Homo sapiens: one gene and its partner. The protein of the gene in region 1 purifies or fractionates together with the protein of each later gene. This does not show direct contact. Each region holds a gene or a part of one and is shown on either strand. Other genes may lie near its edges.

Region 1 (3,406 bases):
CAGGGAAATGAAAGAGTACAGCAAACCTCAGGTCTTTTTCTCCTTAGCTTTACAGGGGAATGAAAGAGTTGTGGGAAACCTACTCACATAATAGGGAACATTTAGAAAGGCCATACAAACCTAAGAAATCAAAACCCTGGAAGTCTCATGATACGTTGAGCTACCACAAGAATTGAATATTTCTGACTCATTTTCTGAATTTTCTTCTAGTCCAGTTACTGACAACTGTTGGATCCAGAGAATCTCTAAAAGAGAGGAAAAAGGCTGTTTTGGGAGAATGAAATTATAAATTATTATGCTGACTTTGGGCGGTGCATGTTAGAAAATCTTTCTATACAAATGTATGCTCATATGCATTGAAGATACATGAGAGACAATAATGAAATTTGTCTGATATTTCTTAATTACTTAATAGTGTCTCGATAGAGATAAAAATGGACCAGTGCCCCCCCAGTGTTATCTTTTGGGTGGAAAATTTCTTAGTTTTTAGATTTAAAACTTCCTTTTGCAATGTTGTTTTTACTTATAAAAAAAAAAGGCTTTCACTTTACAAAGTGGGCCACTGCCTGGAGTCTATCATTTGGATGCATCATCTCACTTTGGGTCTGTTTCTCTCCAGATCCGCCGGTGGCAGAAGGCTCAAAAGAAGGCAAGGCCTCCAAGTAGCCGAAGGCCTCGGACCCGCAGGTCAAGCTCAAGAAGGTCTGGATATGCTTTTGCTCACCAAGAAGGCTATGGAGAGCTTATCACATCTGGAAAAAATATGCGAGCTAAAAATCCACCCCCAACATCAGGGCTGGAAAAGACACATTATAATAGCACTAGCTGGATTGAAAATTTATGTAAGAAAACCACAGACACCGTGAGCAGCTTTAGCCAGGATAAAACAGTGAAACTGTGAGTCAATATGAATTTAAACCACGTAGTTATCTTTTCACTTCAGGTGGAGCTGAAATTCTGCTGGCTCCAGAGTTTGAGATTTGAGGCAAGAGGTGGGGCAGGCAGATTGCCTCACTTAACTTAAATCTGCGGCAGACAACTGCCAGTGCCCATCAAACAGGAGTGTGCGCTATGGAAAACCAGGCCAGAGGGTCACTGTCTGGTTTGTGATTTGGTGGACAAAACACTCGCTGTTACAAGTACAGATTTTTTTTTTTTTTAAATCAACCTAGATACCAATTGACCTGAACTTTAGAATCTTATTTATGGAGAAAAACTTGTAAAGCTGCATATTCACTGAATGGATCCTCAGGCGGATAAAAGGGTGCATTTTAAAGGTATATATCCAAGCTGAAAAGCATGCCTATTGACAGATAAACATGTATCTGTAAGATCAGCCTTTCCCAAGGTATACTTTTAAAATTTAAAGCGTGTACTGTGTTGCTTTCAGACTGAGTTGCATGTCACTCTTTAGTCTTGATATCTACCTGTCTGTTCAGCCAGGACAACAAATGGCTTCCAAGCCTGAAGAATACAAAAGTGTGCTTGTGTTTCTCATTTTTATACCAGTCTAGGGACAAAGGAGACTGAACATCTTTGCAGCAGGATAGGCTGGTAATTTGATCAAATTTATTCAAAAAGCTCTCAGTCTGTGTCATGTAAGGACATGCTTATGAAATGTGAGAGAGGCTCGCCACTAAGTATTCTAAATACTTTTCAATGGCTTTTCTAACAACCTCAGTAGTAATTTGCTGAGCATCATCCAGACCATTAATAGAATCAGCAAAGCACTGGAATTTCACACTTTAATGATAATATTCCACATAGTCTATGGGCAAATATTTTCAACATTTCCAATTTTTAAAGCTTCAGAATTGAAGCCAAACAAATTAATAAATAATTGTTTTAATTACTATTTAAAAACTCAGGTTTAGATTGTTTAAAATTAGTTGCTTTTGATACTCAGCTGTCATGTTTATAATTCAAACATGTAGTAAACATATGTAGGTAAGGTTGTTTTTTTGGAGATGTTGCAGCTCAAATTTCAGTCCACATATGAATCATCAGTGTATTTTCCATAAAGTGATTCGGGCATATTTGTGTGAAAACCTCAGTTCTGTCACTTCTTACCTCTATAAACTTGGACGATAATGTGCCTTCTCTGAGACTCAGTTTCTTCCTCTGTAAAATGAGGACATACTACCTACCTCATGTGGTTGGTTGATGATTGTCTGTCAAAGCACAAACTCTGAAATTATTAAAAACATAATTATTTCATAAACAGATGAGTTAAGTTCCAGTTAACTCAACATCAGTATAACAGAGCAATTGGAAGAGAATATGAAAAAACTGGAATCTAAATAGTCAGTGAGGAAGGCTTTGATAAAATGAAATTGCCAGAAAGATATAAAACTGGTTAGGGTCCTACAGGGAAATAAAATTATAACCGTGGAGGTACATTTCTCTACCAGAAAGCAAAAATAAAGCATCATGTCTTAATGGTTTTCTACAAATCAACTTCTAATTCTACAGAGTCCTTAATCTGGTCCCTATTAAATTCTTGGTCAGACAAAGTTACATTTCCCAAGAGAGTCAGGTGACACTTGAGTGAGTTTGATGGATAATGAGCTAATGTGATATCTATAGGTCACAATTTTTTAAAACCAAAATTTTCAAGTCTGGGATAATCTTTCCTAAATGGGATCAAATGAAATAATATGTGTAAAAGAGTCAAATGCAGTCCTTTACCATAGTAACTGCCTATGGACGTTGTCTTTCCCTTACATGCCTGCCTACACTTAACCAGATGTTGGTTTTCAATGTCTAATTTGTCATTAGTTTCACCACATTTGCTCACTTTTTGTAACATTTTTGCAAGATTTGAAAACTTTCAGTAAATGTTTTGGCACTATTGGTACTTGATGTTTTATCTCTTCTTTATGGGAAATTCATTGGGGAGATTTTTGTTACATTAGTCCACGGGTATTTTTTTCTCTCCTTTACATGCTGGGGAAAATGTACTCATTCTTAGAATCAGAGTCAAGAATAAAATGAAACAATTGGACCTATGTGTAAGGGATAGGAAAGATTAGAAGTGGTCCAATTTTGCAAGTCCAGTTTAAATTAAATAAGGCTGTTTATAAACAAATAGTGTGGATGATTGTGAGAGAAACATATTATCAGCTTACTTTGGCCCCATGAGATCCAAGTAAACTCACACACCCATTGCGAGATCATTCAATTACAAGCGCCAGGGATTATTTTGAACCTGAAGATGAAAAGTGATGAGAGGTGGGTAGTGATGGTGGGGGCACTGGGGAATAATAACATTTTAATTTTACATAAATGTTATCAAATTATTTGGAAAGAAAAACTATTTTTTCTAGATTTAAGCTGATAATCTTGTGTTTTTAAAATCTCAGCCCAAGTTTTGAGCTATTATAGGTAATTGCAAATTGTGTTTCCC
Region 2 (3,758 bases), on another chromosome or scaffold:
CAGGTCACCCTCTCTTTGTCCCTCACTTCCTGAGTTTTTTTTTTTTCCTCCAACTATACTCACTCTACTGGTGATCTCAAACAGCCCTCTAGCTTTTAAGATACTGTCCAAATGCTGACTCCCAAATTTCTATTTCCATCCAAGACCCACTCTTAAACTCTAGACACACACATGCATCGCAACTGCCTCCTCAACAGCTCCACTTGGATATTGAGTAGACATCTAAAACTTGCTCTTCCCACAGCCTTGCAACTCAGCTGATGGCATGTCCAGGCTTCCAGTTGCCCAAGTCCATAACCTCAGAGTTAGGGAAAGTTGAGTGTGACCCACAATGCCAGCTACCTAGAAACTAAGGTAGATCTAGGTACTGGGATTAAAGATATCATAAAATCATTAAAATGTTTTCTGAAATGTTTGAAGTTAACTCATTTTATTTCTAGGATTTGGATTTCAACATTTTAATTTCTTTGGAATATAAGTCACTTTTTGCAAGCTAAAAAATAGAATCAAACTAAGGTGATCTAGTCCTCTAGGCATCCAGGCTGATCCTTGGAATCATGAGCAGAATGATGACATACTACAAGGTGCTAGCAATACGGCTATAAACTCTAAATAATAACCACTACATGTTTCATTAGGAAACAGCCAAAAGTCCGGCCGTTAAAGGAATAATCTGCAGAACATCTTGATTTACAAGGGACAAAATGATGCAAATTATATGCTGTCCAACCTACTGGTGAACTGGATCAGAATGGTCCAAGGACTGTTAAACAGAGGAAGTATTTACATTTTGAAAACTTGCTCTGCAGGATAAAAAAATTCCTGGTTGCTGTCAGTAAGAAAGCAAGTAAAAAAAATATTACAGATGAACTCACTGATCTTTGATTTTACTAAGGTCTTCCACTGGAACATGAAGGTAGGGATAAGTGTACAGGATAATATACTCAGATATTTTTAAAATAAATTACTTAATAATAAGAAATTAGCCATACCACATTGTTCCATTTGCTACAAGAACAAATTGGCAATGAAGACTATTTAAAAGAAATGCTCAGCTCTACAGAGGGTGGTGGCAGGCAACACTTTTCCATTACAGAATAACCTCTATTCTTCCATGATACATATTCCTGTGGAAAAACTTGTCAGGGCCCAGGGATGAAAAATAGAGCTTGTCCTAATTAGCTAACTGTAGGTTCACTTAACATCTTTGGGAAGGACCCAAAAAATCTGGCCATTATTTTCTTAAACATCTGCAAGCTGCAGAATTCCTTAGTCCTCAGCTATAGTTTCTGCTAGATATCTTAAAGCTGGGACAGTTCCACTGTGACTCCTCCTCAGCTATGGGGTGGGTGCTAGTCATCAAAGTCTGGAATGTCATCATAGGAGTAACCACGGTAGCCTTTGGATGCATAGTAAGCGATGCGCAGGTGGTAAAATCCGGGTAGGAACACCAGAATGCCAATGATCAGCACTGGAACGGCCCGGTCTGCCCCCTGGTGGCAGAAGGAGGCAAACACATTAGTACCGTAAGAGTTACACATTTTAAAATAAAACGTCACAGACCTAATCCTTAGATCAGTATTTTATACTCTTCAGTACTTTTTCTTTGAGTTGTATACCACCAAGGGAAAAGGTTTCCTCCTGATTATAAATTGAAGACAAACTACAAAATATTAACAATTATAAAGAAAAAAATGACCCATTCTCATCCAGATATTTTGGCTTCTTTTCCTTTTTTTAAAGCTCTTAGTTGTGAACACACCATACTCTGTGTCCTGTGGCCAATATTATTAAAACCTTTTCATACATTTAAACTGTAAGGATGTGTAACATTCCACCGAAATGGACATACTACAGTTTTACCTAACTGCCCCACATACAGCTGCTGGACACTTTGGTTGTTTTTCACCTTTTGTAATTGTACAGATACCACTACAATAAACTCTGTGTTTTTCTCAGCCTTTCAGGTTTTCTTTTCTTTCTCTTTTTTCTTTTTTTTTGAGGTAAGAGTCTTGCTCTGTTGCTCGGGCTGGAGTACAGTGGTGTGATTACAGCTCACTGCAACCTCGACTTCCCAGGCTCAAGTGATCCTCCCACCTCAGCCTCCAAGTAGCTGGAGTTACAGGTGTCAGTCACCATACCTGGCTCATTTTGTACATTTGTTTGTTTGGTAGAGATGAGGTCTCGCTATGTTGCCCAGGCTGGTCTCGAACTCTGGGGCTCAAGCAATCCTCCTGCCTCAGCCTCCCAAAATGCTAGAATTATAGGCTTGAGCCACTGCACCTGGCTGGCTGTGTTCCCTGTTGTGTGTTAATTATAGTCAGAATTGGTTCAAGACAACTTGGACACTGTGTATGTGGGGACAGCCCATGAGAAAGAACCACCAACTACTTTAGGTTTCTAAGGTTTCATATTGAAGCTCAACAGGAACTCCAACCAAACCTACTGTAAGAAGGAACTGACTTACGAGGCACAGTGACCCCACACATATAACAGAATTGCTATTTCTCTCCAAATACTGACAGTATGTCCATGGCACTGCACAGCTACAATGACAGCATGCTGCTCCAGCTACAGCCCTTTACCAATCAGGACTCCTGTATGCCAGGCTCAGCCATGTTGTTCCAAACTATGACAGGGCAAACTGTCTAATATCTCAGAGGCCAAGTTTGCCTACCTGCCACCACCTCCCCTATAGGAACTATGGAAGTTTACTGTTGCTCAAAGGAAGAAAAACATGTTTTGCCAACAGAGAACAAAATGTAAAAGAAAATCTTTTTGGTTTTTCTGCTGGAATCTGCTGTACCAGACATGAATATAAAAACAAAGATTGAACAATGAAAAAAATCTAAAACCTGAATAGACAAAGAGTAATGAGATTAAGGCCATAATAAAAAGTCTCTTAGCAGAGAGAAGCCTGGGACTAGATGGTTTCGCTGCTGAATTATACCAGTTAAAGAATTAATACTTGGCTGGGCATGGTGGTTCACTCCTGTAATCCCAGCACTTTGGGAGGCCAAGGCAGGCAGATCGCTTGAGCTCAGGATTTCAAGACCAGCCTGGTCAACATGGTAAAATCCTGTCTTGACAAAAAATACAAAAATTAGATGGGCATGGTGGTATATGCCTGTGGTCCCAGTTGCTAGTGAGGCTGAGGTGGCAGGATCACATAAGCCGGGGAGGCAAAGGTTGCAGTGAGCTGAGATCGCACCACTGCACTACACCTGCATGACAGATGAGACCCTGTCTCAAAAAAAAAAAAAAAAAAAAAGAATACTAATCCTACTGAAACTATTCTGAACAGACATGGAGAGAATACTTCCAAACTGATTCTACTAGGCCAGTTTTACCCTGATACCAAAACTAGGCAAAGACACATCGAAAAAACAAAAATAGGCCAATATCCCTGATGAACATTGATGCAAAAATCCTCAATAAGGAGGATAATACTAGCAAACTGAATTCAACAATACATTAAAAAGATCATTCATCAGGACCAAGTGGGATTTATCCCAGAGAGGCAAGGATGGTTCAACTTATACAAACCAATCAATGTGATAAAATCGTATCAGCAGAATGAAGGACAAAAACCATATGATTATTTCAATCGATGCTAGAAAAGCATTTGATAAAATTCTACATCCACCGGGTGTGGTGGCTCACGCCTGTAATCCCAGTACTTTGGGAGGCTAGGGTGGGCCTCACACTGACCATAATTAACACACAACGGGAAACATAGTCAGAGGGGTGCAGTGGCT

What was found. The genes of interacting proteins can lie anywhere in the genome.
Region 2: the proteins of ATP8B4 (region 1) and TMEM230 purify together in Homo sapiens (affinity purification with mass spectrometry; one large-scale study listed by BioGRID and IntAct). This does not show direct contact.

Annotation. Positions count from the first base shown.
Region 1 is NC_000015.10:49,857,689-49,861,094, reverse strand, and holds the end of ATP8B4 (probable phospholipid-transporting ATPase IM), read left to right. Parts: intron 1-619; coding exon 620-901; 3' UTR 902-2,857; downstream 2,858-3,406. UniProt on the Homo sapiens protein: Component of a P4-ATPase flippase complex which catalyzes the hydrolysis of ATP coupled to the transport of aminophospholipids from the outer to the inner leaflet of various membranes and ensures the maintenance of asymmetric distribution of phospholipids.
Region 2 is NC_000020.11:5,099,439-5,103,196, forward strand, and holds the end of TMEM230 (transmembrane protein 230), read right to left. Parts: intron 1,494-3,758; coding exon 1,353-1,493; 3' UTR 412-1,352; downstream 1-411.